Homo sapiens: one gene and its partners. The protein of the gene in region 1 purifies or fractionates together with the protein of each later gene. This does not show direct contact. Each region holds a gene or a part of one and is shown on either strand. Other genes may lie near its edges. The genes, in order: PPP2R2C, ZNF746, PABIR2, PPP2R1B, DCAF10, MTCL1 and TCP1.

What was found.
Region 2: the proteins of PPP2R2C (region 1) and ZNF746 purify together in Homo sapiens (affinity purification with mass spectrometry; 3 studies listed by BioGRID and IntAct, with this or other methods). This does not show direct contact.
Region 3: the proteins of PPP2R2C (region 1) and PABIR2 purify together in Homo sapiens (affinity purification with mass spectrometry; 4 studies listed by BioGRID and IntAct, with this or other methods). This does not show direct contact.
Region 4: the proteins of PPP2R2C (region 1) and PPP2R1B purify together in Homo sapiens (affinity purification with mass spectrometry; 6 studies listed by BioGRID and IntAct, with this or other methods). This does not show direct contact.
Region 5: the proteins of PPP2R2C (region 1) and DCAF10 purify together in Homo sapiens (affinity purification with mass spectrometry; 4 studies listed by BioGRID and IntAct, with this or other methods). This does not show direct contact.
Region 6: the proteins of PPP2R2C (region 1) and MTCL1 purify together in Homo sapiens (affinity purification with mass spectrometry; 4 studies listed by BioGRID and IntAct, with this or other methods). This does not show direct contact.
Region 7: the proteins of PPP2R2C (region 1) and TCP1 purify together in Homo sapiens (affinity purification with mass spectrometry; 6 studies listed by BioGRID and IntAct, with this or other methods). This does not show direct contact.

The regions. Positions count from the first base shown.
Region 1 is NC_000004.12:6,322,332-6,326,393, reverse strand, and holds part of PPP2R2C (protein phosphatase 2, regulatory subunit B, gamma), read left to right. Parts: intron 1-2,800; coding exon 2,801-3,092; 3' UTR 3,093-4,062. UniProt on the Homo sapiens protein: The B regulatory subunit might modulate substrate selectivity and catalytic activity, and might also direct the localization of the catalytic enzyme to a particular subcellular compartment.
Region 2 is NC_000007.14:149,494,620-149,499,290, reverse strand, and holds the start of ZNF746 (zinc finger protein 746), read left to right. Parts: upstream 1-1,481; 5' UTR 1,482-1,754; coding exon 1,755-1,778; intron 1,779-1,926; exon of another isoform or gene 1,927-2,484; intron 2,485-4,671.
Region 3 is NC_000023.11:134,786,918-134,790,979, forward strand, and holds part of PABIR2 (PABIR family member 2), read right to left. Parts: intron 2,720-4,062; coding exon 2,663-2,719; intron 2,350-2,662; coding exon 2,306-2,349; intron 2,223-2,305; coding exon 2,168-2,222; intron 1,915-2,167; coding exon 1,813-1,914; intron 617-1,812; coding exon 555-616; intron 1-554.
Region 4 is NC_000011.10:111,756,225-111,760,286, reverse strand, and holds part of PPP2R1B (serine/threonine-protein phosphatase 2A 65 kDa regulatory subunit A beta isoform), read left to right. Parts: intron 1-335; coding exon 336-483; intron 484-4,062. UniProt on the Homo sapiens protein: The PR65 subunit of protein phosphatase 2A serves as a scaffolding molecule to coordinate the assembly of the catalytic subunit and a variable regulatory B subunit.
Region 5 is NC_000009.12:37,859,603-37,863,664, reverse strand, and holds part of DCAF10 (DDB1- and CUL4-associated factor 10), read right to left. Parts: intron 3,618-4,062; coding exon 3,472-3,617; intron 3,038-3,471; coding exon of another isoform or gene 3,005-3,037; exon of another isoform or gene 2,865-3,004; intron 2,526-2,864; coding exon 2,157-2,525; 3' UTR 1-2,156. UniProt on the Homo sapiens protein: May function as a substrate receptor for CUL4-DDB1 E3 ubiquitin-protein ligase complex.
Region 6 is NC_000018.10:8,711,730-8,715,791, forward strand, and holds part of MTCL1 (microtubule cross-linking factor 1), read left to right. Parts: intron 1-2,412; exon of another isoform or gene 2,413-2,520; intron 2,521-4,062. UniProt on the Homo sapiens protein: Microtubule-associated factor involved in the late phase of epithelial polarization and microtubule dynamics regulation.
Region 7 is NC_000006.12:159,779,041-159,783,102, reverse strand, and holds part of TCP1 (T-complex protein 1 subunit alpha), read left to right. Parts: intron 1-1,992; coding exon 1,993-2,168; intron 2,169-2,536; coding exon 2,537-2,660; intron 2,661-2,721; exon of another isoform or gene 2,722-2,853; intron 2,854-3,015; coding exon 3,016-3,208; intron 3,209-3,312; coding exon 3,313-3,476; intron 3,477-3,841; coding exon 3,842-4,058; 3' UTR 4,059-4,062. UniProt on the Homo sapiens protein: Component of the chaperonin-containing T-complex (TRiC), a molecular chaperone complex that assists the folding of actin, tubulin and other proteins upon ATP hydrolysis.

The DNA of each region.
Region 1 (4,062 bases):
AAACACACCTACACTTGCTCTGAGGAGTCCTGGGCAAGGCTCCCCCAGGGGCCCATGCTGTATCCCTAGGGCTGTTTTTTTCTCTCCGGCCGTTTTCTTCTCTCCATGCTTCCCCATCTCCGCTCCTCCCTGCTTCTTCTTACACACTGGCCTCATCCTCTCCCTCTTCAGAGATGACCCCCAAATCATTCCCCTTTCCATTATCCTCAGCCAGCCAACCCCTCCCAGGGACTGTGTAAAACTCTCATGGAAGGATCTGATTGGCTCTGTGTGGGTCACTTGCCCACTTTTTGCACCAATCAGCATGGACAGGGATATCACATGCCCAAGTTGGCCAGGCCAAGGGGCGAGGAGAGCACTGTGATTGACCGCTCACAGGGATAGGGAGTGCAGTGGCGCCATCTCGGCTCGCTGCAACCTCCGCCTCCTGGAGTCAAACACTTCTCCTGCCGCAGCCTCCCAAGTAGCTGGGATTACAGGCGCCACGGGTGGCGAGGGCAGGAGCCTTTCTTTCCCCAAAGGAAAGAGGAGCGGAGCACTGGGGCTGAAAGCAGCCGGCGTTGTGGTCCCACATGCAGATGAGGCTAGGAGAGGTGAAGCAGCTCCCCTGCCCTTTTCCCTGTTAAGGGAACCTTCTGGAATTTAAGAAACCTGCCTGAATGTGAGGAATGGCTCTCATGGTGGTGCGGCCTGGTGCTCTAGGATGAGAGGGGCCCCTCCCTCTCCCCCAGAGCACGTGTCAGCTGAATTCCACACCCGAACAGGGGGAGGATCAGGAACTGTGTGGGTTGCAAATGACTTTAATTATGTCGCTCTCCTTCCACTAAATGGATCAGAAGAACCAGCATTGTGTGAAATCACCCAGGTTCATTCTGTGAACTGTTCCCTGAAGAACAAAGGGGGCTGCCTCCCCACTGTGCTGGCGCGGGGAGGGTGTGGCCTCCCCCAGTCAGCCTGTGGCGCCTGGGCAGGGCCCTTCTGTGGGACTCGTTCACCCGGCCCCCCTCGCATGCTGCTTCCCTTGTCCCAGGCTCTGAGTCACATATAAAGCGGGTGCGGCTTTGGTCACATGGACGATTAGGATCGAGGAGTACCTGGTAAATAACAAGAAGCAAAGTGCCTCAAGCCCAGCACTGTGCGGGGTGTTCAGCCTATGTCCCCTGATTCACGCTCACCAGGGGCTGCGTTCCCTTGTTGATCCCAGTTCTTATAGAAAACTAAGAGAGTGCGCATGTCAGGGTAGGGCAGAGCTGGGATCCGGACCCAGGCGGACTGGCCAGAGCCCAAGCCCCTGACTGCAGTGCCGGAGCTCACGTGTGAGCTTTTGTCCTCTGTGCATAACCCCTGGAGACCCAGGGATCCACCTGGTTCTGTCACAGAGCAGTGTCACCCTCAGGAAGCCCAGCTCAGCTTCCAAAAGGAAACAGGATTTCCTCCCTGAAGAGCCTTCAGCAGGACAACTTCTTTATGGTCGCTTTTCGTAACATCCTCTTCCTCCCCAGTTACCTTGCACCTCACAGCTGCTCCAGGGCCCTGCAGAGGCCAAACCCCAAAACCCTCCCTCTGGGCGCAGGCCCACAGAACTGTGCTTTCTCTCCTGCCTCTTACTATGTGGATGAACTTACCCTTCCTCCCACCGGCAGGAACCCCTTCTCCTTAGGAGCAGGGAGAGCAGAGAAATGGTGTGGAATTCTCTTTAGCGGGACGGTGAGGGCAGCGAGCCCCTGCACGTCAGCACTGCTCGCCCCGACCCTCATGGCGATGCATGTTTGTTTATTCGCCCGAGTCCTCGGGACAGGCGGGCCCCTGGAGGGAAGCAGGGCCTGGTGGTTTTCTGTCCCAGCTGCTTCCATGTCTACCTCCTGCTGTGGTTGCACAGTCTGTTTGGAAGGCCAGAGCTTTCTCTCCTGGACTAACAGAAATTACAGGAGGGTCTTTTCTTTTCTTTTCTTTTCTTTTTTCGAGACGGAGTTTTGCTCTTATTGCCCAGGCTGGAGTGCAGTGGCGCGATCTTGGCTCACTACAACCTTGCCTCCTGGATTCAAGCAACTCTCCTGCCTCAGCCTCCTGAGTAGCTGGGATTACAGGTGCCCACCACCATGTCCAGCTAATTTTTGTATTTTTAGTAGAGACAGGGTTTCATCATGTTGGCCAGGCTGGTCTCAAACTCCTAACCTCAGGTGATCTGCCCGCCTTGGCTTCCCAAAGTGCTGGGATTACAGGTGTGAGCCACCACGCCTGGCCAGGAGGGTATTTTCATGATGATTGGGGCAGAGGATAAAAAGGATCTTAGCTCCTGGCCCCAAAGTCTGCATGTTGGTGGCAGCTGACATGTGAGGGGGTATAAGAGACCCCAAGATACAGGGGAATAGAGGCAGGTGTGGTTTCCCTTTCCAGGGAGTGATGGCTCTGTAGGCTCTGGGATTGCTTTTTCATTTGTTTGTTGTTTTGGGACAGAGTTTTACTCTGTCACCCAGGCTAGACTGCAGTGGTAAATCACAGCTCACTGCAGTCTCTGCCTCCCCAGGCTCAGGTGATCCTCCTGCCTCCCCAGGCTCAGGTGATCCTCCTGCCTCAACCTCCTGAATAGCTGGGACTACGGTCATTTTTAATTTTTTTTTGTAGAGGTGGAGTCTCGCTATGTTGTCCAGGCTGGTCTTGAACTCCTAGGCTGAAGCAATCCTCCCACCGGGGCCTCCCAAAGTCCTGGGATTATGGGCGTGAGCCCCCACACCTGGGCTTATTTCTCGAGAAGGGGCTTGTGCTCCTCCTCACCTGATGCCTCTCCTTCTCCCACCAGCGTCATCATGACCGGGGCCTACAACAACTTCTTCCGCATGTTCGATCGGAACACCAAGCGGGACGTGACCCTGGAGGCCTCGAGGGAAAGCAGCAAGCCCCGGGCTGTGCTCAAGCCACGGCGCGTGTGCGTGGGGGGCAAGCGCCGGCGTGATGACATCAGTGTGGACAGCTTGGACTTCACCAAGAAGATCCTGCACACGGCCTGGCACCCGGCTGAGAACATCATTGCCATCGCCGCCACCAACAACCTGTACATCTTCCAGGACAAGGTAAACTCTGACATGCACTAGGTATGTGCAGTTCCCGGCCCCTGCCACCCAGCCTCATGCAAGTCATCCCCGACATGACCTTCACGACCGCAATGCAAGGAGGGGAAGAAAGTCACAGCACTGATGAGGACAGCTGCAGAGGTGGCAGTGTGTGGACACAGGAAGTTTGGGCCCCCTCCCTGCCCCAGCTTTCCTAGGCCAGAATTGTGTTTGGCAGTAATTGTCTGTTTAAAAAAATAAAAAGGAAAGGAAGCGTTCACCGCCACAAATCATAAAATGGACATGACTGTGGAGTCTTACAGTTCAGGGTTCTTTCATTCACGTCCCTTCCTGTCTCGGTCTGCGGTCTTTACCACATCAATAGGACTTTTTATGCGTCCGGGTTAATTTTTCACTCCAGTGCGTCCTGTTGCAGGGACCGGAGCTGATGGGAGCTGCTTCTCCCCCATGCCTCACTGGTCCCAGATCAGGGCTCCAGGGACAGATGATGAGTCTCAAACGAGCCAGCCAGGGGTTCTTTTGGTTATAAATGGGGCAATTCGCCCTGTCTCAGAGCTGATGACCTCACCGTTGTTTTTTGGATGGTGAATTCATGCTGAGAATTTGCAGATGCAAGCTCCTCTCCTAGGTCTTCTGAATGTCTTGAAACATCCCAGGTCCCAGGTCTGGTGCGGTTTCCCGAGAGGAGCGGAGTGGGGTTTGTCTTCTGTGTGCCTGTGTCCTCATCTGATTCACCTGCCATTTGCTGAGCCTCTGCTGTGTACCAGGCGTGGTGCTCAGCCCTAGAGGCAGTTGACTTACCCTCTGCAGCCCTCCCTGCCGCCTCACCCTTCAGCATTCACTGGGCACCTTCCCGGAGCGGACACTGACTCCCATGCACGATTTTTTGGAATCTTCCTCCTGACTGTGAGGTGGGTGTTCATTCATTTCCTCCATAAACACCAACTTCTCGAAGCGTGCCAGGCTCTGGGCTGGATGCTGGGGATAAGCG
Region 2 (4,671 bases), on another chromosome or scaffold:
GCCTCCCGGGTTCAAGCGATTCTCGTACCTCAGCCTCCCCAGTAGTTGGGATTACAGGTGCGTGCCACCACGCCTCGCTAATTTTTTCTATTTTTAGTAGAGACGGGGTTTTGTCATGTTGCTCAGGCTGGTATCAAACTCCTGAGCTCAGGCAATCCACCCATCTTGGCCTCCCAAAGTGTTAGAATTACGGGCGTGAGCCACTGCGCCCGGCCCTAAAATGCTTTATATCTTCCTACATCAATTTTTTTTTGGGCTGTCATCCAGCTCACACCTCTACTACCACCCTCTGGTCTGAAATGCTCTCTGCCTATCAATATTTTGCCAATTCTTCAAGATCCAGCTCAAATTTTATCTATTCTGTAAGGTCTGCCTTCTTTGAAAAAGATTACAGATCTCTCACATATTTTCTTATCAGTGTGTGCTAGGCAGTTGGCTAGTTAGTCTTGGGGAATACACAGATGAGCAAGTCGTGTTCCTGAAAGGCAATGAGCCTCTGAAACTACGTGGGGGCCCGTCCAAGGCGCCCTCCTTCCCCTGCTCTGGTTGGCCTCTTTGAGAACATTTAAATTTTTATTTTTCTCTCCTTGTTTAAAAATACTATCCTTGTCATGGAAAAATAAAAACATGAATTGGAAAAAATTAGAAAAGGCATAAAAACGGCCCGTGGTCTATTAAAGGAATAGACCTTTAATAGAACTACTGAGGCCATGTTGATATATATGCTTCCAAACTTTTCAAAACTGTAATTATACATGTACGCAGTATATGACGCTACATATGTCCTATATTGTTTTAAAATGTTATTTTTAAAACAAAGACAGGATCGTCCTGGACAGGCTTTTTCTCTTAAAACATCATGAACATCTGTTCCTACCAAGACCTTCACCGAAATCATTTTAAATGATGGTATTGCGTCCCATTGCTCATGCCATTAAAAAAATTTACTGTAATAAACCCATTACAGAAAATGCTAAGTGGTTGCCTACCGGGGTTTACCGAACTATATTCCTGTTGTTGGAAGTATTTATTCCATTTCAAACACAGGTGGGCATGAGTTACATCTGTCCTCCCCAAAATAGCCTAAACCTCCAGACCCAGGACCTCGGGCAGCAGAAGTGCCCGTGGGGCGGGGGAAGGGGAGCCGGGCATCCCAGGGCGAGGGGGCCGCCCTGGCCGCGGTCACCCGGGGGACGCCCTGCCCGGAAGCCCGTGCTCGCCCGCGGGCGCGGCCAGGCGGGTCCCATGAGGGGGACCCTTTCAATAACCGAGTCCTCGGGCTGGGCCGCGGGGCCAGCGCAGTGACTCCCCCCGCGCTCGGCAGTCCGGCCGGGGTCGCGGGGTCGCGGGGTCGCGGGGTCGGCCCGGGGTCGCTAGGTCCTCCCGTCGGGCCCCGCGGGCGGGGCTGGGCGGGGCGGGGCGGGGCCGCGGGCAGGCGGGCGCAGCGCCTGCCGTTCGCCTCTCAGGCTGCAGGTGGGGCTGTGCGGCCGCGCTGCCTCCAGGAAGCCTCACGGGCCTTCGTCTGCCGGGCCGCGGCGCCGGCTCCCAGGATGCAGTGTGGACCGGCCGGGCGCTGACGGAGGCGGCGCGACTGCGGGCGGCGCGGCGCAGGGGCAGCCAGCGAGGAGCGGCGGCAGAGGAAAGGCCAGGCAGGCGCCGCCTGCGGAGAGCACCGGGCGGCCGGGCCTGCGTGGTGCCGCGCGCGGCGGCGGCGACGACGACTTCCTCCGGGCCGGGCGGGACAGCGCAGGGCCATGGCCGAGGCGGTCGCGGCTCCGGTAAGGGCGACCCGCGCGCGCAGGGACTCGCGGCCTGGGGGCCCCAGGCGGCCCGGCCCCGGCACACGGCGCCGCAGGCCCTGGGGAGGGGTTCCGGGGTCCGGGCCGGACCACCGGGCCTGGGGCTCCCGCGAATGGGGCGCGGGGTCCGCCGGGGCCTACTGCGCCCGTCGGCCGGGCCCCCACTCCGAGCCGAACCCGAGCGCTGGCGGAACGGTTGTCCCCGCCCCGGGCCGCCCCACGCCAAGTTCTTTGGGCCCTCCGGGGCTTCCTGCCCCCGCCCCAGCCGCTGTCCCCTCCTTCTGGGTGCCCCCCCACCCGCGGCTCCTTTCTCTGCCTGGCGCTCGGCCTGTAGGTCCCTCTCCATCTCCCCCGCAGCGGCCTGGTGGCACCTGGGAGGTGTCCGGCTTCGAATCCGCATACACCGACTCCCACTACGTGCCCAGCTTCCCGGGGTCGGCGCGGAAGGGAATATAGAGCCACGCACTTCCACAAGCCCTGTTGAGGCGTTAGTCTGTCCTCACAGCAAGCCTGTGGGATGGGTACTGGTGTTAATCTCTGTCATACAAAAGAAAAACCCGGGGCCTAGAGAACTTAACTTGCCCAGGCTTACCCAGCTGGAAAGTGTGAAAAGACACACAGTGGCTGTGTGTTCAAGGACCAGGCAGGCAGGTACGCGGGCAATAATCGTGCAAAACAGAAAGGGGTGAGTGCTGGCGCCCAGGTGGAAGCTTGCGGTGGGCTCCGGGGGAAGGAGTGTCAGGGGGCCTCTTGGTACCGCTGTCCACCCCTCCTGGCCTGATGCTCTGCGCCTCTGTGATTTGAGCCGGGCTTTTAGGGAAGGCTAGGATTTCAGGCCCAGCTAGACCGGTGGTGCTTTCAGGGAGGGAGGAGTGCCTGGGCAAAGGCGCAGAGAGACGGGACAGTGCAGGGCGTGTGCAGGCACAGAAAGGAGTCCATGAGCCTGGAGAAGATGGTTTTGGTTTGGAGGCAGTGGGAAAGGAGTCTGCAGAGAGAGACTAAGAAGGGGTTTGCATGCCTGGACTTCATCCTGCGGGTGGGCAGTGGATGAGGGATCCGGCTCCTCTTACCATCAGCTCCTCTCAAGCAAAGAGTTTCAGCTCCCCTGGCAGGAGTCCAAGGACAGCCCCACATATTCCAGCCACTTGTCAGTAAGAAGCTGGGCTGGAGTGAGCAGCGCACAGTCGCCACCTCCCACCACATAGTGTGAAGACCTTACACAGGGTTTCCTGGCCCCATCAGAACTGTAAGAAAACCATGCACCTTGTTGTCCATGAGTAAAAGACTAATATTTTCTTAATAAAGTAGTTTAGCAGAGGTCCCTTTCATGCCACACAAAGCCCATAATAATGCACGTGGAGGATGGGTAGGATTTCAGTGGATAAGGAGCTGGTGACCAGTTGAAAGGAAGCTTCTGGAGTAAACTCTTGGCGTCTGGGATCACGTGACAGGGATTGATCTGAGAAAGGAGAGGTGAGGGAAGGAACAGTGGCCTTAGGTGGAGGGTGGACTCAAGCCCAGAACCACGCTGGCCCACCCAGGTGCTGTAGGACCACCTACTCCTTGAGAGCAAGACTCCCACCCGCATTGGGGTTTTCGCCTAGAAACAGTTCAGCTTGTCCAGAATCTCCCAGCCTTGAAGACCCCTTAGAGTCCTACCTTCTTTGGGTCCTGCTTCCTTCCAAATAGATAGTATCTTAAGCACTGTCCTAGACAAGTTTGTTTCTCCCTCTGCTCAAACTCTCCTTTTGTCTCTATTTTTTGAGCTGTCCATCCGCATTCTAGTTCTCAGTGACTTTCTCTAAGTGAATCCACACTGGTTTCTAGTAGCTACTTCTTCATTTTGGAAATAATCACCAACCTTTTGTTGAGGAATTATTTTGCAGAATGTTGTAAGGAGGCGTTGATCCTCAGGTCCCGATACCAGGAGCTCCTCTGTGCCCTGTAGGTCCCACATTCAGATGTGGGTGGCTCAAACAGTCCAGCTCCCTACCCACCGCAAAATGTGCCCATTCTTCCTTGTCCCAGCTGCCGGTCACTGATACGCCATGTGAACATTTCCAATGACAGGGAAGGCCCCCGTCTCTAATTAAGATGGTTGCTGTCCATATACAAGTCTAACTGTGGCATATATGTACTTTCCTCACCAGACTGCAGGGTATGTCACTGCTCCTGGTACAGCTACAAAAATGTCGGAGGCCGTCATTTTTACCTTGAGGGGGTGGGAATTGGGAAAGAGAAAGAATCTTGTAGGGCTCAGGCAGTGTCAAAAAGCCTAACTCTGGACTGATGGAGATTTGCAGTCATGGGGATTTTAGCTTGTGGGGGAGGGGCAGATGGGAAGGTGACAAAATGAGACTGTCCTGGGGGAAGAGGAACTGGCCATTAGATTTTTATGTTTGTTAAAAGGGGACATGAGATGCTTTAAAAAACAAAAAAAGAAAAAAGAAATTGAGCAATACTCTTGTTTGTGCCGTTTCAGTGAACCAGCTGTTTTTTTTGCTGGGTCATCATCAGTAGACAGTTCCTGTGTAATCATGAGGGGAGGTGCAGGCTGCGCTCTAGTAAATCTGCAGTTTACCATTTCTCCACTAAAATGCCCAGCAATGCTAAGTCACTGTTTACGTAACAAAATTGCACTGGGTACCTGCCATGTGTCAAGGACAGTGGTATGAAAAGATGCAATACCATGTTCAGGGAGCCCACAGTGTAGGTGTGGGTAGGAAATTATTGTGTAGGGTGATAAGCACCGTGATAAGGGTCTGCATTGTGCTGCAGAGGCCTGGAGTAAAGGCACCCACCCAGACATAGACCTAACATACCCAAGCAGGTGATGGCCAACCTGAGATCTGGCATGTGGTATAGGATAGCC
Region 3 (4,062 bases), on another chromosome or scaffold:
TCTAGCCTGGCGACAGAGTGAGATTCCACCTCAAATACAAAAAAAAAGAAAAGAAAAAACTCTGGTTAAAATGTTAATGGTAGATTATAGGCAGTGGGTATATGGTTGTTCACTGTGAAATTCTTTCACTTTTGATGTCTGAAAATTTCACAGTGAAATATTGGGAAAAAGAGTTAATCTTCTTTTTTTTTTTTTTTTTGAGACAGAGTTTTTGCTCTGTTGCCCAGGCTGGAGTATAATGGTGCGATCTCAGCTCACTGCAACCTCCGCCTGCTTGGTTCAAGCGATTCTCCTGCCTCAGCCTCCCGAGTAACTGGGATTACAGGCGCCTGCCACCAGGCCCAGCTAATTTTTCTATTTTTAGTAGAGACGAGGTTTCACCATGTTGGCCAAGCTGGTCTTGAACTCTTGACCTCAGGTAATCCACCAGCCTCGGCCTTCCAAAGTGCTAGGATTACAGGTGTGAGCCACTGCGCCCAGCCACAAAAAGCTAATCTGAGAGATAAATGTAATGAATGGTACTTCAACCACATTTAAAATTCAAGTTTGCTTACCTTGAAAATCGTCTTGGACTGGGAACTGGACTTGGTGGCAATCCACTGCTGCTCACGAACATCTGTAAGAAGGGTGAAAAACATTACTAGAAAAAACATATTCAATATTAAAATAGTTCTAGCACTCCAGTTTTCTTTCTTTTTTTTTTTTTTTTTTTTTTTTAGAGACAGGGTCTCTCTTTTGCTCAAGCTGGAGTGCAGTGATGCGATCATAGCTTACTGCAGCCTCGAACTCTTGGGCTCAAGCCATCTTCCTGCCCCACCTTCTTGATGAGCTAGGACTACAGGTGTGCGCCACCATGCCCGACTAATTTTTTTGTATCTATTTTTTTTTTTTTAATGTAGAGATGGGGTCTCGCCATGTTGCCCAGGCTGCTCTCGACCTCCTGAGCTCAAGTGATCCTCCCACCTTGGCCTCCCAAAGAGTTGGAATGATTACAGGTATAAGCCACCATACCAGGCCCACAATCATTTTCAAAAGGTTCTTTTCAAAATGACAGAAACAATATCTTTAGAATTGCTTGGCTGTCTGTGTGTCTCATAACTAAATTACATATATATATATGTAATATATATGTAATATACACGTTATATATATGTAATATACACGTTATATGTGTAATATATACACGTTATATATGTGTAATATATACACGTTATATATGTGTAATATATACGTTATATATGTGTAATATATACACGTTATATATGTGTAATATATACACGTTATATATGTGTAATATATACACGTTATATATGTGTAATATATACACGTTATATATGTGTAATATATACACGTTATATATGTGTAATATATACACGTTATATATGTGTAATATATACACGTTATATATGTGTAATATATACACGTTATATATGTGTAATATATACACGTTATATATGTGTAATATATACACGTTATATATGTGTAATATATACACGTTATATATGTGTAATATATACACGTTATATATGTGTTATATATGTTATATATGTGTTATATATACGTTATATATGTAATATATACGTTATATATGTAATATGTTATATATATGTAATATATATGTTATATATATATATATTTTAAGAAGACCAAGAATATACATATATATATGTATATTTTCCAAATTACTGCTGTAGATTTTCATTGATTTTCCTTCAAGGCATTGGATACTTTAAAAGTGGGGTGATTTGTGTGTGTTTTAGAGTAAACAGCTCAGTTTGTGAAATACACTTAATATCTTGTCAGTTATCCTACCTTTCCGAATCCCCTGGTGGGTGAAGGTGCTGGAGAAACTGGAGTGAAGTCAATTCTCTTAGGAGAATATAATTTCTCCGGCTTGTCAAAATCACTGTCACTCTGTAAACATAAAGTGTCATCTCCTCATAATAAATTCAGCACATCACAGCTCTTACTTACTACTATAACACACCCAGATTTTCCAAGGAGAAAGGTATAGACTCTAATATTCTGCTGGAAAAGCAGAGATCAAAAAACAAGTATCAATTTGGAAGTAGAAGGGGAAAGAAGTGTGCGAAAAAATTAATGAACCTAGTGAACAACATAAAAGTTTCTAGAAAATGAAAACCAAACAGACATGAGCAAACTTTACCAGGCTCAAGCTCTCATCCCATGATTGGCTTATCTGCATTGCCGTTTGCATTTCCCTAAAATAAACAAAGGGAAGGGCCGTCAGTGTTTACAAACAAGACACTTATTAGGCTAGGCCCTGCTCTTGCAAAGCACTAACCTTTCATGTGCAGTTTCTCTGTTCACCATATCCAGGCCTTCTTCCTGCAAAGACAAACATATATGCTAAAAAGGCAGGATCACTGACAAAATATTAACTCTTCCACACACTGCAATTTTTATCCACATAGTTCTCTGCTTCAAATAAAATAAAAAGACTTTTTCTACCTCATTGACATAATCACAGTAGAGTGGAACATTCATGCCGCTTGTATATTTTATCTACACGCTCCAGAAGAATTATAATCTGTCTCCAACTAACCAGAGTTGCATCCTAATTCATTTTAATATCTACGTCTTTAAAATAAAAATGTAAAATCCAAAAAATTTCCAATCTGAGCTAGTAAGTAAAATTTACCCTTTTGATCTGATGCAGTCTGCTACTAGGAATACGATTAGGTGAGGATGACAGCAACTGGAAAGAAAAAGTAAACATTTACTATTTTCTGAATCACAAAGCAGCAGTCTGCTGTCAGTACTGGCGTACAACCTCTTCCTAGGTAAGTTTTCATATTCTTCTTCAAAATTTAGCTCTTTAGATCACTGAACGTTAATGCACTAAAGGCAGTACATTTAGTCTTCAAAAAGTACACCAGGTGTCCAACCTCAAAGCGCCATCTGTTGCTAGACAGACACTGACTTCAGCACTTTTCCCAAATGAATGTGAAGCTACGTAAATTTAGAGAAATAAAGACTATGGGCCTTAGAAATATCCATTATCCCACTTATCTAAAATAAAGAACAATATGAGAAGGGAAAGAAAAAAAAACACCAATGTTATTAATTTTTATTATCAATGCAGCAATGGGGGAAGACAGGCTAATAAGTCTAGTATATAATATTTTGTCTATGATTGATGATTTTCAAAAACACTTTAAAACTGCAATAAGGAGGTTTTGCTTTCACGATCCAAATCCATTCTAAAATCTCATCATATGCTATCACTACAAATCTTACTAGTTAACAAAAAACAATTTGGAAAGACAAGGTGTATCTTTAAAATAACTGATGCTTTCCCTTAGATCATCATTTTTTAATAACACAAAGCAGAAATGATTTGGAGGCCAAATTATGTTCCTTCACAATAATTACAAGCTGGTCACAAACTGTAAGACACAATTCATATCAACAGGTCTTAGAGAGTTCTAGTGGTCATAATATAAACGACTACTATTTATTCTATAACGAAATGCAAGTGAACTTGTAATACTATAAAACCAAATAACAATTATCCTGTTTAAGAGGCCCTACACTATTAAAACTTATTTGAATACTAATGTAGTGAGCAGTATAAAATAGTGATAAAATGCTCTAAGTTTCTTTTTATTTTTTTTTGAGACAGAGTTTCGCTCTTGTTGCCCAGGCTGGAATGCAATGGCATGATCTCTGCTCACTGCAACTTCCGCCTCCCAGGTTCAAGTGATTCCCCTGCCTCAGCCTCCTGAGTAGCTGGGACTACAGGCACACACCACCATGCCCAGCGAATTTTTACAACCATTAAGGGAGACTGGAGTATAAGATAAATGTATTTTAGTAGAGACGGGGTTTCATCATGTTGGCTAGGATGATCTCGATCTCCTGACCTCGTGATCCTCCTGCCTTGGCCCTCCAAAGTGCTGGGATTACAGGCGTGAGCCACTGCGCCCAGCCACTGGTGAACTCTTAATAAGATCATTTAGAAAACACCAAGCTACAAGGCAAGCAAATACAGCAGGAAGACTCTCCAACAGGAGACTGTGGAAGAGAGCGCAGACGTGT
Region 4 (4,062 bases), on another chromosome or scaffold:
ACTTGAGCCCCCGACAAACAACAACAAAAATATTTTTGGCATATAGATAGGGTCTTGCTATGTTGCCCAGTCTGCTTTCAATTCCTGGCCTCAAGCAGTCCTCCTACCTGGGCCTCCCAAAGTGCTTTGATTACAGGTGTGAGGCACCATGCCTGGCCTATGATGTCATTTTTTATTATCCAGTTGAATATGTTTTATTTTTGTTACTTCTATAAGTAGAAGCTTAGTCACTGATTATTGTAAGATAAAACCTCTAAAAGTCTGTCTGTGTGTATGGGGGGCAGGTTTATTCAGTGTTATTTGATGGGAAATACCTTCATTGTTTTATGTTGCAGGCAATTCCGTTCCTTGTGCTCAGATGACACACCAATGGTACGACGTGCTGCTGCTTCCAAATTGGGTGAATTTGCAAAAGTTTTGGAATTAGACAGTGTGAAAAGTGAAATTGTTCCACTGTTCACTAGTCTAGCTTCAGATGAACAGGTAAACTAACTCTTAGTATTTAAGGGACACAGATATGCTCCTTTCCTCTAAATTTTCAGAATTTCTTTGGGGAGTTTTAGTTTTCTTGTTAGGATTCTTTTTACAGAATTAGTGCTGATTCTGGCCTGGTTAAAGTGTAACATGCTTATCTCAATGTTCTTATGTTTCTTTCTTAACCAGACCATGATTTCTCTCTTACATTAGCAGCTGTTAAAAGAGTGGGGAGTCAGAGAGGAAATGGGAGCCATAATTAGAAAGGAAGACCAAAGCTGCATGGAGGGTAACATACCTTTGGGAATTGCTGGCTGTATTGTAATATGAGGGAGTAATGTTTCCTGGAATTTTTGACTTTTCAGATAAATAAGCTTAGAATGTGTTAGGAAAGCTATTTGACTCTCTGCTTCTTCTATAGTAGTGTATGGGATTACTTCACATAATCGTATTCAATTCTGAAGATCTAGATCTCTTTGGTGTAGAAATAACAATAAAACTAGCAAACATCCAAATGAAGTACTTAATTTTTCTCTGCCTTTAAGTAGTTATGTGTATTAAGTAATTCAGTCCTTACAACAGCCCCATGAGATAGCCCATTTTACACATTAGAAAACAAAGGCACAGAAAGTTTAAGTAACTTGCTGAAGTTTGCATAGTTAGCAGTAGTGGAGTCAGAATTTGAATCTAGGTGGTTTGGCTCCAGAATTTGTGCCCTTCACAGCTAGGCTGTCCCGCTTCTCTGTAATGGTGCTTAATAGGATCAGCTCCCAGAGTTCCTGGACTCTAGAATAGTCCTTTTGGGCTTTTAATTTGCATGTTGCCTGCCCTAAGATCGCTTCATGTGTACAGGACCACAAGCCCCAGGACACATATTAATGAGTCTCATTTTCAGATCCTAAATCTAAAGATCTAAATCCTACTTTGAAAATAATTTTAAAAATTATTAGAATTTTTATTCTAATAATAAATGTACAAAATGAATGTATAACTTAATGAACTATTAGAAGGTAATACCAACTTGTTAACGATCACCTATGATAGGAGACATCACTTTGACAGCCACTATCCCAGAATCCCTCCATGGATTCCCTTTCAAACACAATCTCTCTTTCCTCCTCCACTTGCCACTCCATTTCCTTAAGAGTAACATTATCCTGACTTTTATGGTAAGCGCAGCCTTTGTTTTCTTTGCACTTTTTCTTTTCTTTTCTTTTCTTTTTTTAAAAGGAGTCTCACTCTGTCACCAGGCTGGAGTGCAGTGGTGCAATCTCGGCTTTCTGCAACCTCTGCCTCCCGGGTTCAAGCAATTCTCCTGCCTCAGCCTCCCAAGAAGCTAGGACTACAGGCGCATGCCACCACGCCAAGCTAACTTTTGTATTTTTAGTAGAGACGGGGTTTCACCATGTTGACCAGGATGGTCTCCATCTCTTGACCTTGTGATCCGCCCACCTTGGCCTCCCAAAGTGCTGGGATTACAGGCGTGAGCCACCGTGCCCGGCCTTCTTTGCACTTTTATTACCTAAATGTTATAGTTTAAAACAGTGCTTTACAACAGAAATATAATGTAAGCTACCTGTTGATTTTAAGTTTTCTACTGGCCATGTTTTTATAAGAAAAAAGAAATAGGTGAAATTAACAATATTTGTATTCGACCAAAATTTTCCAAAATCTTATTATTTGAGTGTAAATAACGTGTACCAGCCACATTTCAAGTCTCAGCATGAGATGATGTTGTTAATAGGGTGGTAGTGAAGATGGAAAGGATTTGGATGTCAGTTTGGAAGTGGGATCAATAGGTTAGTATTATTGGATTGGATCAGTGGGAGAGGAATCAAGATCTCCTAGATTTTTTGCTTGAGCAACTGGGTGGATGATGGTGTCATCGTTAAGATAGAGAAAATTCTGGGAAGAGGAACAGGTGTAGGAGAGAAAACGAAGTTCTGGAAGAGAAGTAATTTTTTTTTTTTTTTTTTTGAGATGGAGTTTCACTCCTGTCGCCCAGGCTGGAGTACAATGGCATGATCCCAGCTCACTGCAACCCCTGCCTCCCGGGTTCAAGTGATTCTCCTGCCTCAGCTTCCTGAGTAGCTGGAATTACAGGCGCCTGCCACCATGACTGGCTAATTTTTTGTATTTTCAGTACAGATGGGGTTTCACTGTGTTGGGTAGGCTGGTCTCGAACTCCTGACCTTGTGATCTGTCCGCCTTGGCCTCCCAAAGTGCTGGGATTACAGGTGTGAGCCACTGCACCAGACCAGAGAAGTAATTTTTTAACAAATATGTATTAGCTTATATTTCAGTAGTTGATTAGCAGTCCCATGATTTAGCATCATTTTCGAAATTCAAAAATATCTGTGTAGTCACTACCAAGAACTTAGTCCTGTCTTTTTTAGCCTGTGCACCTGCATACAGAGGAATGTGTGTGTCTTTGGCATATAGTCAGTTATTGTTGATACACAGTTTCTAAGATTTGTAATATTTTGGAAGTTGGAGTCACTGTTATGTCTCTCAAGTATGTGTATACGTATATACATAACTGTTATTGTACACACTTAAAATTTTTTACCTATTTCTCCTGGGTGCTAATGTTTACATGTATTAAGATTCTACCTTATATATGTATAATACACAAATCTACAGTCTCAATTTCTAATTTCTCATTGATGTTTCTTTTTTTTCGGTGTTTTTTTTTTTTTGAGTTGGAGTTTTGCTCTGTCACCCAGGCTGGAGTGCAGTGGCGCGATCTCGGCTCACTGCAGCCTCTGCCTCCTGGGTTCAAGCAATTCTGCTGCCTCAGCCACCTGAGTAGCTGGGATTACAGGCACGTGCCACCATGCCTGGCTAATTTTTGTATTGTTAGTAGAGATGGGGTTTCACCATGTTGGCCAGGCTGGTGTTGAACTCTTGACCTCAGGTGATCCGCCTGCCTCGGCCTCCCAAAGTGCTGGGATTACAGGCATGAGCCACTGTGCCTGGCCCCTCACTGATTTGTCTTGTATATTTTCCACTTGTTCAAAGGACGTAGGTGTCACGTTGACATTGGCTGTTTACATTTGGAAAGTTGAGTTCATTAATCCCATACTTTTCTAATTTCTGTGTTTTTCTAGCCACAGCTTCCTCAAAGTTATTCTGTCCTTGATCTTCGACATTTAAATCCAACTGATTTTTGTTTTTGATTTCTAACTTTTAATTGTTCTGTGTATTTCTTTCCAAGTCATTATCTTATGCTGCCTACACTCCTGTTACTGCGACCCTGATCTGAGTTTTTTGAAAACTAAGCTTTCTAAGTGATTTCCTTTACTCTTACTCTTACCTTTGTCCTAATCTGTTATAAATAACTTGTACAAATATTGTTTTCATTTTTATCCCTCAACTTTCTGTTATAGTAAGGCTTTGAAGGCATCATTAAAATGTTTTTTTTTTCTTTTTTACTTAATTTTAAAATTTTCATTTCCTTTATAGAAACTCTGCATTCTAGCCAAGGTAATTACTTTGCTGTTTACTCATAGTACAAAGTCATTTCTATCTTTATGACTTTGACATGCCATTCCAGGCAAAGGGAGCAGCTCTTTCTTTTTTTTTTTT
Region 5 (4,062 bases), on another chromosome or scaffold:
TTTAAGGGTATTTACAATAATACAACTTAAAGACAAAGTGTCCATAAGTCATTATTTCTAACAGACAGCATAACACAGTAGAAATTGCCCTGACCAAGGAATTAGAAGACTGGAATTCAAGTCCTAACTCTGCCACTAACTTTGCAGGATGACCTTAGGCAAGTCATGTCACTTCTCTCATTTGTCAAATAATGCAAATGATTCCATTCTAAGGTATTTTCCACCTCTAAAATTGCTTTCATTTACTATTATTATTTTTTAAATAATGAAAACACTTTCTGGGAATTGTCTTAAGCCCAAATGGGTAGAGAAGAATTTTTTTTTTTTTTTTTTTTTTTTGAGACAGAGTCTCGCTCTGTCGCCTAGGCTGGAGTGCAGTGGTGCAATCTCGGCTTACTGCACCCTCTGCCTCCCGGGTTCAAGTGATTCTCTTGCCTCAGCCTCCTGGGTAGCTGGGATTACAGGTGAGCACCACCACGCCCGGCTAATTTTTGTATTTTTAGTAGAGATGGCGTTTCACCATGTTGGTCAGGCTGGTCTCGAACTCCTGACCTTGTGATCCACCCACCTCGGCCTCCCAAAGTGCTGGGATTACAGGCATGAGCCACTGCGCCTGGCCGAGTAGAGAAGAATTTACTGCTGATTAAGGTTGTGTTTTTCAACCTGCAATCCCGAGACCCTCAGAATAAAGATTACTTGAGGTTGCTATGAAAAATACAGATTCCTGTCCTCCCCCTGGCTGAATCAGAATCTCATAAGGTGAGGCTCAGGTTTCTGCACTTTTCACAAGCTCTGTAATGGTTACAGTGCACCCTAATGTTTGAGAACCAGTGGCCTAAAGAGAATGCAACCTAAGAGGGCAAGGCTAGTGCATAGCTTAAATCGCTCCAGCCTTTGGTAATCCCTTCTAAACACAGTACCACCCATGTGGAGGAGACTGCAAGGAAGCTGTTATTCAAAGTAGAACAGTCAGCCTTGTGCTTGAGTCCTGCTTTATGCTTGCGTGTTTCATAACAAAACACAAAGGCAAGTCTTCATATCAGCACTTAGTCTTGATATCCAAGTAGCTGACTACTGTACTTATGATAACAGCTTGAAGAGGACTGCAACTCTCCCCTCACGAATGGTGACAGAGTTGGCTTGTCACACCTGGCTCAGGGAAGAAAAATGAGTAAACCCCTACCTCTTTACTCTTGATTCCTCTTCCACCCTAATACTGTTAACACATCATCCTGTGTGATTCAAATAATCTGGCAGATGAAATACAGAAAATCTAAGTCATATTGTTCTTATCACTCTATGGCCAGATATTATACTAATCTAATTTTAAAAATCCTTTTCTGTGCAATAGAAATAACCAAAGCTCATTCTGTCTCCTTTCCTTTCTAATGCTGTTGATAGGAACAAAATATCAAGTAAGGATACATGCTAGAGATGTTAAATTCATACAAGTAAAGTAAATTACAAAGAGAGGTGGTAATATTTTTTTCTAGAATTTCACAATAAAATCCCTCTCACCATGAAAATCTTTTTATAATTTTAACAGGAAACTTAAAAGACATTTTGTTGCAAGACTATCTTAACAATTATAAGAATAATGCCATTATCTGTGCTCAATATAGATAAACATAACAGTAACTTTAAAAGGCCAAGTATACTCATAAGTGAGGATGAAATTTATTTTTCAACAACCAATATGCCAATATCCAACTTCTAGGTTTTATTCAATTCTAATGTCATGGGTTTCTCCTACCCCAGTCAAAACTCCTGCCAAATGTCCACAAAATTGACACCAAAATCAACAAACACAAAGAAAGAGAGGGACAGGGAGAGGGAAAGAGAAATAGAGAGTGAGGAAGGAAGGAACGTGACAAGAGCTACCATGCAAAATGACCAGAAGAACTGGAGTTCAGTGGCACAGATCAGCAGGAGCAGAGGAATGCTGCAAAAGATGATGCTGCATAGAGTCTAACTTGGAGATGCCTGTATGATGCTGGATGACCAAGTACTAAGGTCACAAGTGTGTTCATGGACCCATAAGAACCAGGATCTTGACCCAAACTTATAAGATCTTCTAAAAAGAAAATACTTCATCTAAATTGAAGCAATTCCTAAGTCAAACACCAGAAGAGTTCCTTATTTGATGTAAGTTGTGCCTAAAACTTTGGCTGATACAAAGAAACCCGTCCACTAAGGCACCCTGAGGCAATCTGACAATGTGTTGGAGAGAACTTTGTTGTCAGTACCACATCATTATGAGAGTACAGAGAACGGATCACCCGCAGGGGACTGGCTTCTTTGGGCAAGCAGTCAACAAGTTCACTGCACTGTTTGTCAAATCCCAACAAGCGAATCCCATAGCCATGTGGGGAAGAAATCATTCGTCCATCGGGGCTGAAGCAAAGTTCTTTGATGTAACCCCTGCCTACATTGGCTTCTTCAATGTAATGAGTCAGTCGTAGAGAACAGCGAGGTGAGACAGGTCGCACTGGAGCTCCTTCTTGGAATTCATAGACACAAGTACACTAGGGGGAGAGAAGGGAGACAAACCAAGGTTACAGAGCCCAAATAGTGCTACAGATATTCCTTATTTTTAAAAAGCTCAACAGATTGCCAAAGCCACAGAATTTTTACAAGAAATCACTCAGAATAATGCTATCCCCCTCCCAACTAACAAAACTTGTAGGCCCCCTACTTTCTTATCTTCATAAGCTGAGGTTATTCTGTGTTATGATGCTTTAAAGCCTTTTGTTCCCTGAGGCTGCCTGTGACTTTTGCAGTAATACATTCTCTTTTCTAAGGGCAACAACAATGTTGATATTTTAAAAATTCCTGGAGTACATCCAAGCCCTAGAGTATCTTACCTCTTCCCCTACACAATTCAAAGGCTCTTCTCTTCTCTCCTTTCAGTTGTGGCCTCTAGGACCAGTGAGATCCTTGGAAGACTCTTGCTTTCCAGAGTGATGAGAATCATAAAGTCATTTAACACCTTTCCCCCTAGTCATCAGTATAGTCCCTTCCTTTCCCAGAGTTTCCCCTGGTTTTTAAAAAAAGAAAATTATGATACTCAATTGGCTTAGTAAAATCTCACATTTAGCCAGCTTAGCTGAAACATTTCAGACCTATGTTTATTATACAAGGGGTTTTTGTTTGTTTGTTTGTTTGTTTGTTTAGGGTGAGATGAAAGAGGCAAGATTTAAGAAGCTGGGCAAAAACTGAGCTGATGCTGGCCTTTAAAGTACCTCCCACCTTGCTCAACCCCAGCAGGAGAGGAATAAGAAGAGTTTGGAAGGGATAATGATACCATATGAAGCAAGAGAGGACAGAAACAGGAGAGTCGAGAAGCAGGATCTCTAGCAGTATGCCCTTGAAGGCAGAGACTGCAGTCAGCGATCGGCCTAAGCTCTGCACACACGGCAATGGCAATTTGTCCAATGAGCCCTGTTGAAGGTGGAGTGCTGCTGCCTGTACCTCCTCATCATCACTGTTGCTTGAGCACCGAAGAAGAGTGGCCCAGCCTTTTGGGTGCAGCTGTAAGGACGTGATGCAGTTTCCGTGGTCACTCTCACCAAGAACTTCAGGGGTTACGACTTCAAGACTATTTCGTGGTGAAACTCCTGAGATATAAGAAAATGAGGATGTGGGATTTGTATTATCAAAAAACTAAGGCAGTTCATCAAAGCTTTTTATTTCTGGCAGCCACCTCCCATGCCGTCATTCCTTAGTCTGCCCCTTATGCTACCATATGTTAAAGAGCGTGGTACTCCCCAATGTATGGTGTGTGAGTTTTGGCGGGGTGAAGGTGTGGGGAAAGGGTATAAATAGAACAAAAGATCCAAGTTCCCACAGCAGTAATTGTCACTGACCTAAGGCTAAGGCATAGAAGCTGACTAGGGGTTCTTTTATTTGGATCTTACATCTCAGAAAGCTCTTTATTTAAGTAAGAACCAAAGTTATGTGACATGAAAGGACTCTAGAAAGGTAAAAGGTAACAATTCTCCTCTCATTGGTCCTGGTGCTTTCTGGTCCAGAGAAGGAAATACTTGGAAGCCATGAGGATTG
Region 6 (4,062 bases), on another chromosome or scaffold:
TGGGGTTGTTTGTTTTTTTCTTGTAAATTTGTTTGAGTTCATTGTAGATTCTGGATATTAGCCCTTTGTCAGATGAGTAGGTTGCAAAAATTTTCTCCCATGTTGTAGGTTGAACCCAGGCACTTTCTTAATGCTGAGGACTTTGGTAAAGCGCTGGTGTGTTCCTTCCCTGCCAGGCTGCCAAGACTGTGTTTTGCTCGAGTGCTCGGAGACAGTCAGACAAGCCGGAGTGCTCGTTGTCAACATATTAATTATGTTCTCTGTTTCCACAGGCTTTTCAGGAGGATTTAATCAGTTGGCATTTATGAGCCTATTTTGAAAATGCTTTTAGCAGCCATAACCCCACACCTCCCCCACCCCCAAATAGTGTCCTCTTGCCATGCTGACCTCCTGCAGGGTGGGTGAGGATTGGGGTGGGAAGAGCTGTTTCTTTTTGCTTTGCTTTGCTTTCTCAGTTATTTCATAGGAAATATTTTTCTGTTAAAAGAAAACAAGTTGGTGCTAGATACAAGGGCAGAGAAAATTGGCTTCTTGGAGAGGAATGATTTCCTAAGGGAGAGGTTGAGTTTTGGTTTTATAGGTTGCAGTGTCTCACTGCTGATCCAAGCTTACCATCCTGCTTCTCATTGGAGTTAGCCTTTTGAGTTTCAGGCCCTGACCTGGTTTTTGACATTTGGCAGCTGGGCTGCCCAGATGCCGGGTGCTCAGTGTGGCCTGGGGGTGGAGGGGCACTTGGAGAGGAGCGCAAGCAGTGCTCTGTAGCTGAGGTGTCTCAGCGCCTCCTTGCTCCCCGCCTCCTCCTCCTTTCTCTTTCAGAAGGGTTAACATGGACAGTATTCCCCATTCTTTCCTGACATTCGCTGTCCATACCCACTCTGTATTCAGCCACTGAAAGAGTGGCTATGATCATTTTCAGTGGCAGTTAATGTAGACAAGGGCTGCGGCCACCAGCTGCTGGCTGGACCATCACCTGGTAGACAGTGGGAGTCGCCCTGCACCTCCTTAGTTACAGCTGGGACTCTTGGAGAACATTTCCCTTGTCTGGAGGGAAATGAGGTGGATTATTCGTATGTTACAAAAGACAGTAGTTTCTGTCTGCCCAGAAGATAGAATTATTGCAGCAGTAGCCAGAGGACTCCTTCTACCATCCAAACTGGGTCTATTTAAAGAGGAGGTGCTAAAATAGAGATAGTTACTGATTTTGGGTATTTAAAAGAGATTAAGATTTTCATATAGTTATTAACATGATTAAGAGTTTTCATCACTTATACTAAGAAGCCATGGATTTGACTTTTATTATATATTCATGGATAAAACTATCCTTTTAGAGGTTTTCATTAAAACATATAATTTTAATCTTGGTTTACTCTAGTGCACACCTGGTACCTCATTATTCCTCTAATTTGAGATACATGATAAGGCTTGATTTGTCAGCCACAGGCAAAGGGGAATAGTCGACTGGACTTCACAGTACTTCAAGATTTCGTTTTATATACAAAACTTTAAAAAGGTATTTAATTAAAACTAGCTTTTCAATGAGATAATGATTTAATACTTAAGTATCCTCCAGACTTGATGTTAATTCAGTAAAAAACTATTAAGGACAGCTTTTTCTTATTTCCGTGTATAAAAAGACAACAGCGATTTTCCAATTTTATGTACTATCTCTAAATTACACCTGTCAGAAACATCATATGCTCTGCTCGATTTGGTTTACTTAAATTTTTAGTTGGCAGATGTCATTAAGGTTCTGCAATACAGTTTTCTAAATTGGAGCATGCCGTCAGAAAATTAATGTAATGTTAGTTTGAAAATCACTATCCATCATGACCCTAATTCCAGTAATCATAGTTTTTGCTTTTCAGATGGCTGCTGCCAGCTTACATGGTTTATAATTTGCTTGTCTTTAACTTCTTTTCACTGAACCTGAAAATTACTTTTTTCTAGGCTCTCTGGGAAGAGTTGAAACACTGGCCCTGGTCCTATTGCTGCAGCAGACCAATAATGGTGGAAAGCCATTTATACTTTTAGAATCTCAGTTTCCTCGTTTTAAAGATGGGAGTATTAGCCAGGCATGGTGGCATGTGCTTGTAATCCCAGCTACTCAGGAGGCTGAGGCAGGAAGATCACTTGAGCCCAGGAGCTCAAGGTGGCAGTGAGCCATGGCTGCACCACTGCGCTCCAGGTTGGGTCACAGAGTGAGACTCTGTCTCTTTAAAAAAAGCGGGGAAGGGGCACGGATATCTTTACCGCACGTTGCAGTGTCTTCCTAAGAACCAGTTGCCCTAATGGATATGCTTTGTGTCGTCACTTGTCGAGCTGTAAATGTTAGGCTGCTTTTTTTGTTTTACACTGATGGTGGACTTTTAAAAGTACAATTGAAGGTCTGTTATTGTTTCATTTGTCCAGGTTGAAGCAAATAATTTATGGTATTTACTCGAAAGAGTGTGTGATTGAAAGCAGACAGGCCTGGGTTTGCAGTGTGGCTTCAATTTACTAGATGTGAAGCTTTGGACACAGGTAACTAGCCTCAGTTTTGTTTTTTTGTCTATCAACTGCATAATGTGTTCCTGACAGGGTTATTGTAGGGTTAGTAATGAGGGTGAGGTGCTTAATAAACGACGCCTGTTCTGTAAATTTAGGTAAAATATGAATTATAAGAGCAGTGATTTAAATACATGCCGTTATGGTGCATTGGTCCATTTTTATACTTCTGTGAAACACTAGACTGGGTAATTTATAAAGAAAAAAGGGTTTAATGGACTCACAGTTCCACATGGCTGGGGAGGCCTCACAATCATGGTGGAAGACAAAGGAGGAGCAAAGACACATATTACATGGAGGCACGTAAGAACGTGTGCAGGGAAACTGCCGTTTATAAAACCATTAGATCTCTCTTGAGACTTACTCACTGTCACGAGCAGCAGAGGAGAAACCCGCCCCCGTGATTCAGTTACCTCCCACTGGGTCCCTCCTGTGACACGTGAGGATTATGGGAGCTACAGTTCAAGATGAGATTTGAGTGGGGACACAGCCAAACCATATCATATGATCTCTCCCTAATTTTCTTTTCTCTTTTTTTTTTGAGGTGGAGTCTCACTCCATCGCCCAGGCTGGAGTGCAGTGGCGCGATTTCCACTCACTGCAAGCTCCACCTCCCGGGTTCACGCCATTCTTCTGCCTCAGCCTCCCGAGTAGCTGGGACTACAGGTGCCCGCCACCACGCCTGGCTAATTTTTTTTATTTTTAGTAGAGACAGGGTTTCACTGTGTTAGCCAGGATGGTCTTGATCTCCTGACCTTGTGATCCGCCCGCCTCGGCCTCCCAAAGTGCTGGGATTACAGGCGTGAGCCACCGCACCCGGCCCCTAATTTTATTTGCAGTACAACTAATGTTGGTGATTATTTGTGCCAAAAAATATTGCTATTTACATCTGGTCTGCTCAATGATGTGGAGGTGTGGGTGCATCTAGCCCTTGAACAGTTTTCATAGCCTGTAACATCTGTATGAAAATGCAGCATTTAACATTAGGGTGGATGTGGGCTCTCCAGTTGCAAAGTCTGAAAGCTAGAGACATTTTATACCTGGAAGCTGTATCTTGCATCTTAGGGCTATATTGCATTTTAAAAACTTTTGTCTTAGTTGCCGATAATCCCAGGCATTAATGACTTTGGCAGGCTTTCTGGAAAGAAAAGCAATCACAAACCATTCTTTCCATGAACAGAATGGCCAGAGTCACTGTATATTTGTATGTGTGGATATACATGTACATATACATATACAGATATTGACTTAGTGTTGAACATTTAGTGATTATTGCTTGTATTGAACTGATTTGTATTAATGACTCAGTGAAACAATTAACCTCTTTACTCAGAAACAAGCATTGCGGTTAGGTTCTTTCTCAAAGTCTGATCCATTAGTTTCATGGATGGGGTGTGAATCAAACTTGACGTTGATTTTTGAAGATTCAGAACTAACTTCCCACTCTATCGAAAGAGTGACAACCACAAGGCTCATTTTAAAGCTTTCAGTCTCCAGTTGACCTCCTCTAGGAGTGGG
Region 7 (4,062 bases), on another chromosome or scaffold:
CTTCTTCATACATCCTTGTGCTATAGGTACTCCCTATCGTACATCTTTACAGGCAGATGTCATGAGTGGTTTACTACACAAAACTTCTCTGGTGCTTTTCTTCTCATCCCTTTTCAGCCCTGTTCTCCATTTGAGGGACTGCATGTTAAGGTCTCTAGCGTGAAATTCGGAAGACATTTTCAGCCTTCCTCTTACTTGACCTTTAGCAACCCTTTGATTATGTCCTTCTTGAAATGCTTTCGGGGATGGAAGGCTTTGTGATGCTGCTTTGTCTGGACCATGTCATAATACTCTCCAGGATAGCCCCTTTGTTCCCATGACTTCATGTATTATCTCTCTATGCCAGAGACTCTTTCAGCTGTTTCTCTAAGCTCCAAACACACATACCTCTATCTAGTAGAATGCTTTTCAAGCATCTCAAAGTGAACATGTCTAAAACTGAACTTGTGATAATACCGCAAATCTGCTTTTGACCATTTTAGTGATGGGGAGTCCTTCACACAGGCAGAAAACTAGGAAATGTCCTTAACTCCTCCTTTTTACCAACACTTTTTCTCCTAATCTGTCACCAAGACCGCTTGATTTCTACCTCCAAATTAAATTTACCTACTTTTCATTTTCTTGCCTAGACTGTTGTAGAAACACACCCAAGCTAGTCTCTTAGAGAAGCTTTTCTTTCTTCTTCAATCTAAATTATATTCTGTTGTAACTTCCTGTATTTTTTCTTCCTGGGGCTTATTACAGTTTTTACCATGAGTTTATATAACAGTGTGTAGCACACAGTACTTGTTTAGTAGACAAGCTGCTTTTGAGGTTGATCTGTAATTCATTTTACTTTAAAAATTCTTCGAATGATCTATTCACATGGCTTCACTCATATTGACTCTTCAAATCTGGATCTCCCATAGTTTATGGTTTCCATGATGTAAGTGACTGCCTCCTGGGAGCTTCACCTGAGTAACAGCAGAGACTTCAAACTTAATCTTGTCCTCAACTAAACTCTCATTTCCCATCCTGCCCCCAAAACTCTTGTTATTTATTTTACTCCAGGAGTCACCCAAGCCATAAAATTTGACTTTTCTGTTTAGGTTGTCTTTCAGCTTATATCTCATGTTATTATCTTCTTGTCTTCAGCCATTCAGTGCAGTTTCCACATTGATAATCAGGGAATCCTTTTGAAAACACAGATGATATACTAGTCTTGCTTAGAGATATTAAGCTTAGTATCTAGATTGTTTGGTGTAACCTGCAAGGTTTTTCACTTTTCTGGTTCTGCCTTCTTTTGTGCTTTCAACTCTGGACTCCTGTTTTTGTTTGTTTGTTTGTTTTTGAGACGGAGTTTTGCTCTTGTTGCCCAGGCTGGAGTGCAGTGGCACGGTCTCGGCTCACTGCGACCTCCGCCTTCCGGGTTTAAGTGATACTCCTGCCTCAGTCTCCTGAGTATCTGGGATTACAGGCGCCCACCACCAGGCCCAACTAATTTTTTGTATTTTTAGTAGAGGCGGTTTCACCGTGTTGGCCAGGTTGGTCTCGAACTCCTGACCTCAGGTGATCTGCCCGCCTCAGCCTCCCAAAGTGCTGGGATTACAGGCGTGAGCCACTGCACTTGGCCTGGACTCATCTTCATTGTCCACCTCCTAGGCTAAATTTATGTCTTTTATGTGCTTGTAATCTCTGCATACCACTTTAGTGACACTTGCCCTGGAGTGTGATTGGTAATCCCTCTCCCCACTAGATCCTTGAAGGCAGGACCTGTGTTCCCTGTTTAACCATAGTTCTCAATTAGTAATTCAAATTTGGGTTGGGGAGAGCTAAGTGGTAATTTTTAATTCCTTCAAATTTTCCATGAATTGGACTAATTTAAATTCTGGTCAGAGATAACAAAGGATAATACAATTTGATCTATGATTATCTTGTGATAAATACTTAATGGAAGTTAAATTATTTTTAAAAATCACAGAAGGTAACTCAGGTTACAAAAATACTTTGCAGAGAATCAGATATCACCAAGGAGAGAATTCAGAAGATCCTGGCAACTGGTGCCAATGTTATTCTAACCACTGGTGGAATTGATGATATGTGTCTGAAGTATTTTGTGGAGGCTGGTGCTATGGCAGTTAGAAGAGTTTTAAAAAGGGACCTTAAACGCATTGCCAAAGCTTCTGGAGGTATGTCTTGTGCTGGCTGTCACATAAAATACTTTTATTATCCCTGATCCTATCAAAGGTCTTTTTACATTGGAATATTGACAGAAAACAGCTCAAAAACATTTATATTCTCTTAATGCTTTGTGCTACCAACACATTTATAGAGCCATTTTTCATGTAACTGGAGAAATTTTGTTGGAAATTTGTGAACTGAATTTGTTCATTTCTAAAATGACAGTTCCATCTTAGGATAAAAGGAGTTACCGTGTGCTGCCTAACTAAATTCTAAACTTGTAATATAGCACTTTTACCACAAATGCTACTGAGTCCAAGGATATTAAAATCATGAAAGAGCAATATTCACAGATCCTTTGTAACTCTCTTATTAGCAACTATTCTGTCAACCCTGGCCAATTTGGAAGGTGAAGAAACTTTTGAAGCTGCAATGTTGGGACAGGCAGAAGAAGTGGTACAGGAGAGAATTTGTGATGATGAGCTGATCTTAATCAAAAAGTAAGAGCCACTTTCTAAAATTGTAAAGTTATACCGATTTTGTTAAGTAAAAGTAGGTTTTCTTCCCATTTATTTGCTGCTTGTAGTCTCACAGTGATACGAGCAGTTATACGCATGGGATAAAATAACATTGGGCCACTGTAAATTGAGATGAAGTAACCATTTTCATCTCTTCTGCAGGGACTAGACATTGTTTCTGTATAGTATATCTAAATATCCTGTGTAGGCAGGACTTAAGGGAACTTTATGTAGACTTATTTTATTAAAATGCCATTTTTTTTGAGAAATTGATGGTCTTGGCAAAAAAAAATTTTTAAAAATGCTATTACAAGAATTGTACTTTTGTTTTGAACAGTACTAAGGCTCGTACGTCTGCATCGATTATCTTACGTGGGGCAAATGATTTCATGTGTGATGAGATGGAGCGCTCTTTACATGATGCACTTTGTGTAGTGAAGAGAGTTTTGGAGTCAAAATCTGTGGTTCCCGGTGGGGGTGCTGTAGAAGCAGCCCTTTCCATATACCTTGAAAACTATGCAACCAGCATGGTAAGAACAGTCATTTCTTGTCTTAGAGGCCTGAGAGCAGTAGCTGTGGACTTCAATTTTTTTTTTCCCTTTTGTGAAGTCACCTAATTTTCTTCTTTTCCTAGGGGTCTCGGGAACAGCTTGCGATTGCAGAGTTTGCAAGATCACTTCTTGTTATTCCCAATACACTAGCAGTTAATGCTGCCCAGGACTCCACAGATCTGGTTGCAAAATTAAGAGCTTTTCATAATGAGGCCCAGGTTAACCCAGAACGTAAAAATCTAAAATGGTAAGCATGGTTTCCCGCTCTTTGTTAACCTCTGCAGAACAGGTTGCATTAAAAAGGATAGTAGTCAATTACATGTCAGCAAACATAAGTAACAGACTTGTCAAATACTTAACATGAAAAACTTCACAGCAAGCATTTGTTGTTCAGTCACTGTAATTCAAGGGATAATGACTAATTATTAGCACTGGTGTGTCTTCGTTAACTGTGATTGCTAATCTCTCCCTGCTTCTTTTGGTAGAAAGACTACCTACAAGATCTCTAGTCTGATTTAAAAATCAACCTTAATACTTGAATGAAATGCTGGAGTTAATAGGCCACCTAATGAAATTGTAAGCGGCCGTTAAATAATTCTTTCTTAATTGCAGGATTGGTCTTGATTTGAGCAATGGTAAACCTCGAGACAACAAACAAGCAGGGGTGTTTGAACCAACCATAGTTAAAGTTAAGAGTTTGAAATTTGCAACAGAAGCTGCAATCACCATTCTTCGAATTGATGATCTTATTAAATTACATCCAGAAAGTAAAGATGATAAACATGGAAGTTATGAAGATGCTGTTCACTCTGGAGCCCTTAATGATTGATCTG